Linked DNA regions of Homo sapiens: region 1 is linked to region 2. Evidence: fine-mapped expression QTL. A gene starts in region 2. The other region holds a variant in brackets. All regions are shown on one strand. Distances are between the middles of the regions.

The links. PIP is the estimated chance that this variant, and not a neighbour inherited with it, causes the effect. A credible set is the group of variants that fine-mapping cannot tell apart.
Region 1: its variant is the best candidate, but not a certain one, in a credible set for the expression of CAPN7 in prefrontal cortex (BrainSeq, PIP 0.59).

What each region holds. Positions count from the first base shown.
Region 1 is chr3:15,444,919-15,447,917 of GRCh38, forward strand. No RefSeq gene overlaps it. Among named protein-coding and RNA genes, the nearest start is that of EAF1, 19 kb to the left of the region's middle. The variant C/T (reference allele first, on the strand shown) is at 1,306.
Region 2 is chr3:15,204,757-15,207,256 of GRCh38, forward strand. It overlaps CAPN7 (calpain 7), which reads left to right and starts at 1,490. Exons shown (of 21, transcript NM_014296.3): 1 at 1,490-1,841. The coding sequence starts at 1,740. It also overlaps the pseudogene COL6A4P1. RefSeq lists a silencer at 1,196-1,715.

The DNA of each region.
Region 1 (2,999 bases), 240 kb after region 2:
GTCAGCTCTGTGCCCCTACCATGCCTCAGACTGTCATAGCCGACACCAGAAAGCCAGTTGCAACGTTAACAGGAGAAATATTTCTCCCACACTGCTGCAATTGAAAAGTGTCATAACCATTCCTTTTTTTTTTTTTTCCTTCAGAGGGAGTCTTGCTCTGTTGCCCAGGCTGGAGTGCAATGCATGATGCTCACTACAATCTCTGCCTCGCAGGTTCAAAAGATTCTCCTGCCTCAGCCTCCCAAGTAGCTGGGATTACAGGTGCCTGCCACCATGCCCAGCCACGTTTTTTGTATTTTTAGTAGAGATGAGGTTTCACCATGTTGGCCAGGCTAGTCTCAAACTCCTGACCTCAGGTGATCCACCCACCTTGGCCTCCCAAAGTGCTGGGATTACAGGCAAGAGCCACTGCATCCGGCCAACCATTCCTTATTTTGAGTGACTACTGCTTTCTTTCCAATGACATCTCTAGCCTTGCTTTGTTACTCCCGCCACCTGAAAAAAATCACTGTGAAACTTTGTGAATACCCCTAGATCCCCAAAGAGGTGATTGATTTGGCCTGAGCCACTAAATAATGATAACAACAAATAAAATCCAACACTTCCAAAACATTTTTTTTTTTTTTTTTTTTTTGGAGACAGTCTCACTCTGTCACCCAGGCTGGAGTGCAGTGGCACGATCTCAGCTCACTGCAACTTCTGACTCCCAGGTTCAAACGATTCTCATGCTTCAGCCTCCCCAGTAGCTGGGATTATAGGTGTGCACCACTACACCTGGCTAATTTTTGTAGTTTTAGCAGAGTTGGGTGTTTCACCATATTGGCCAGGCTGATCTTGAACTCCTGACCTCAGGTGATCTGCCCACCGTGGCCTCTCAAAGTGCTGGGATTACAGGCGTGAGCCACCACACCCGGCCTTAAACCATGTTATCACTAAAATTCACCACAACCTTGAAATAAGGTACTATTATTCCCCATTTAGAGGTAAGAAAACAGAGACTCAGAGAAGTGAAGTAAATTAAGCGGGTTAATTAAACAGCGAGTTTGTGGCAGAGCCAGGCTTCAAATCCAGATGTGTGAATCCAATCTTCTGCTTTTTTCACAAACTACACCACATCTTTCTTGACCTATGGCACTCTGTGAGAAGTCAGTCTCTGTGAGTGGACCTGTCAAAATCAACCAGGCCTGCAATCCCAGTACTTCAGGGTGTGGAGGTGGGAAGATCGCTTGAGGCCAAGAGTTTGAGACCACCCTGGACAACATAGTGAGACTCAATCTCTACCAAAAAAAAAAAAATTAAAAGACT[C/T]GAACAGCAGGCCGGGCACGGTGGCTCACATCTGTCTATAATCCCAGCACTTTGGGAGGCCAAGGCAGGCAGATCACTTGAGGTCAGGAGTTCGAGACCAGCCCAGCCAACATGATGAAACCCCATCTCTACTAAAAGTACAGGCCGGGTGCGGTGACTCACACCTGTAATCCCAGCACTTTGGGAGGCCGAGGCAGGCGGATCACGAGGTCAGGAGATTGAGACCATCCTGGCTAACATGGTGAAACCCCGTCTCTACTAAAAATACAAAAAATTAGCCAGGTGTGGTGGCGGGCGCCTGTAGTCCCAGCTACTCAGGAGGCTGAGGCAGGAGAATGGTGTGAACCCGGGAGGTGGAGCTTGCAGTGAGCTGAGATCACACCACTGCACTCCAGCCTGGGCAGCAGAGTGAGACACTGTCTCAAAAAAAAAAAAAAATACAAAAATTAGCCAGACATGGTGGCTTGTACCTATAATCCCACCTACTCAGGAGGCTGAGGCAGGAGAATCACTTGAACCCGGGAGGCAGAGGTTGCAGTGAGCTAAGATTGTGCCACTGCACTCCAGCCTGGGCAACAGAGCGAGACTCCATCTCAAAAAAAAAAAAAAAAAAAAAAGAATCAACCAGTAGCTTTCTGGGTATGGTGTGAGCAGTCTTCCCAAAGGTTTGCCTCAAGCAACTCAGCACCTATTCCTGCCAAAAGGAGAAGCAAAACCAGATAACCAGTGGAATGGACATTATGTGTGCCCTGTACCCATTCCCCCAATTCATGCTCCCCAATATTTGGTCCAGAAGTCACCCCCATGTAGCCTCTGTGCTTCTGCAGAATCTCCAGGGGATAGGCTAAGAATAACGTGTCTAACAGTGCTAAGCTAAGCCCATGGCCTGGGTCAGCAACATTCTAGAAGAGGAAGAGCATTGTAGCCGATTGTTTGGCTGGATGGTAGTGATGGGGAACAGTTCCCAGGTTGGGCATGCAGAAGGTTTTCCGGTACTTTGGATTAAGACAGGATGCAGTGGTCCTAAATTCTTATAACCTTTGTCTCCATGGGTTCAGGAACCCAGCCTTCATTCGTCAGCAAGTGCCATTCTCCTGACCAATAGAAATTGGTTCAGTAACAGGCGTGTGACCCAAAGCAGACCAAGGAGGCTCACTGCCTCCTTGGTTTGCTGGGGATTTCCAGAAAATAAATTTTCTTTCTTTTTTTTCTTTTTTTTTTTTTTTTTTGAGAAAGGGTCTCACCCTGTCACCCAGGCTGGAGTCCTGTGGTGTGATTATGGCTCACTGCAGCCTGAACCTGCTGGGCCCAAGCGATCCTCCTGCCTCGGCCTCCCAAGTAGCTGAGAGTGAAGGTGTACGCCACTCCACCCAGCTGATTTTTGTATTTTTTATAGAGATGGGGTTTCGCCATGTTATACAGGCTGATCTCGAACTCCTGAGCTCAAGCAATTCACCCACCTTAGCCTACCAAAGTGCTGGGATTACAGGCATGAGCCACCATGCCTGGCTGGAAAAGAATTTCTTGAGAGCCACTGGAACAGGCATTGTCTCTTCCTCTGGATTCTGCAGGGTGCAGATGTAAGCTTGAAACTGCAGCAGTCAACACCCTAAGGATCCACCCTAAGGATCAAATTAATGGAAAGGTTCAAATAGTTGAGAGGATAGTAGAGGAATAGAGTGGGGACCTTGACT
Region 2 (2,500 bases):
GGATTCAATTCCTTATACAGAATATAGGAATAAATATAGGAAGAGATCTCAACTACCTGGGAGTGCAATAAAAGGCTTCCTTCAAGATGCACTAGGAATTCTATAAGCTGTGATGGGAGCAGGAACCGAAGTCCTGTGAGGAGTAAAACTATATTTATCTGCTGTAGCTTGGGGGTCAGTTTGTGCAAAACAGTGACTGAAACACATATGGCCTGAACTCATGTACTGAAGGACTTTCTCACATTAGATATATTTAAGTAGTGGAGTTGACTCATTCAACATTTTAAAATATTTGTTGAACACCTGCTCTGGAACAAGGCTTGCGCTCAACGCTGGGATCAAAGTGGTAAAGACAGGAAGCATCCCTGCTTCAGCTATAAAACTGTAGTTGCTACCTTTGAGAGCCATCTTTGGGCCAGGCACAAAATCAAATTCTGTGTGTCTTTATAACAGCCTGATGAGACCGTTGTTATTAAGAACTTCACTAAATGTGAAGAAATACACTTAAACTAAGAAATTAGAGTCCCATTTTAAATGCAGGCCAAATGACTGAAAAAAAATTTAGAGTATAATTAAAAAATTAAAAGTACACACTTAAAATGTAGTTTGATAAGTTTTGACAAACGTATATATTTTTACACCACCATTGAGATATAAAACATTCTCATCATCCGAAAAGATTCCTTTGTATCCCCTTCCCAACCACTGATCTGCTTTCTAACATCGTAGTGTTTTCTAGTGTTTCTTATAGATGGAATTATACATTATGTACTCAATTCTTACTTCTTTGACTCAGCATGAATTTGGTGGTGCCCATCACTAATTCATTTTTATTACTGCTGACTTCAGACCTTTAGGGGAGAGAAGACATAAATCAAATAATCACCTAATTAAGTATTTAATTACAACAGCATCAAGTTAACCTAAGGGTAAGTACAAGTGGAAATACATTACCTTGTTTGTTAACAATTCAATCAATACGACCTTGGTGTACAGTGGGGGGCTATAGGGTCATGATTCAGCTTGTGGAAAACAAATGAAAATAAATGTTAGCGAAGAGTGACTCTAAAGAACCTCTGTCCTCACGGTAATTTTTTTAATGTGTCAGATGCTGGTGGGAGGCATTCTTCCTTAGCTCTTTACTCCCATCCCTTACACTTAACAGAGGAAAGGATCTGTAAGGCGCGTACCCCTCTACTGCCCACTGTCGACGAAAACAGCCTCGCCCTGCACCGCCACCGCCACGCATAAGGCGGTGTGTGGGCAGCTCGGACGTGGCACCTGCCCTCAGCTGCTCAATCCCGGGCGCCGCGACGGTCACGTGCACAGCGGCAGGCCTTTTTGCCCCGCCCCCGCGGCCCGGCTCCTGCGTGGGCCCGGCCCCGCCCACAGCCCGCGCAGTCCCGCGAGCCTGGCCTCGGCGGCCCCAGCTTCTAAGGAGCTCGTGAGGGCCAGGCTGCGCCTGCGTCGGGCGGCTGGTGGGCGGGGCGAGGGCCGCTGGGGCCGCGAAGTGGGGCGGCCGGGTGGGCTACAAGCCGGGTCTGGGCTGAGGGGCGCGGCTTCGCGGTGGACCCCAGCCCGGCAACGGGAAGGCGAGCTCTCCTCCACCGTCCAAAGTAAACTTTGCCGCTCCTTCCGCGGCGCTCCCGAGTCCTCGCCGCCGCCGGGCCGCCGCAGTCCGCGAAGAGCCGTCCTGCGTCAGGGCCTCCTTCCCTGCCCCGGCGCGGGGCCACTGCGCCATGGACGCCACAGCACTGGAGCGGGACGCTGTGCAGTTCGCCCGTCTGGCGGTTCAGCGCGACCACGAAGGCCGCTACTCCGAGGCGGTGTTTTATTACAAGGTAGGGCCGGGCCCGGCGCTTCGGTCGGAGTTGCTCAGTCGGAGTGCGGCCCGGGCCTGCGGCCGAGGGGCGGGATCCGGGTGCGGAGGCTAGCGGCCCCGGCTTTGCTTTTCCCTCGTCCGCCTCCCGGCCCTCCTCTTGTTGGGAGCGGCAAGCCCGAGTGCAGAGGCCGACGCTGAGGCTGCGGGGAGGCTGGGTCGCGGCTTGCAGCCGCCGCTCCTCCACCTGTAGTCCTGACTGGCAAATGCCCACCGTTGAGCCGCTTTGGGGGGCAGGTGTTAGATATGGGTAGTTAGTAGCCAATTCTTGCTGTCACTTGACTCTGATTTACAGCTAGCGGGAAATGGCCTGTGATATATATCAAAATAATGCATGCTCGTTAAATAAACTTAAAAAGAATAAAAACCATCTCCTGTCATAGCATTTGACATACAGTCATGCGTCCTTAGCGATGTGATATTTTCTGAGAAATGTGTTCTTAGGCCATTTTGTTGTTGTGCGAACACCGTAGAAAGCGCTTACACAAGCCTGAATGGTACAGCCTGTTCCACACCTAAGCTGTATGGCATGGCCTGTTGCTCCTAGGTTACAGGCCTGCGCAGCGTGTTGCTGTACTCAGTGGTGTGTGCAGTTACATGCAGTGGTAAGTATTTGTGCAT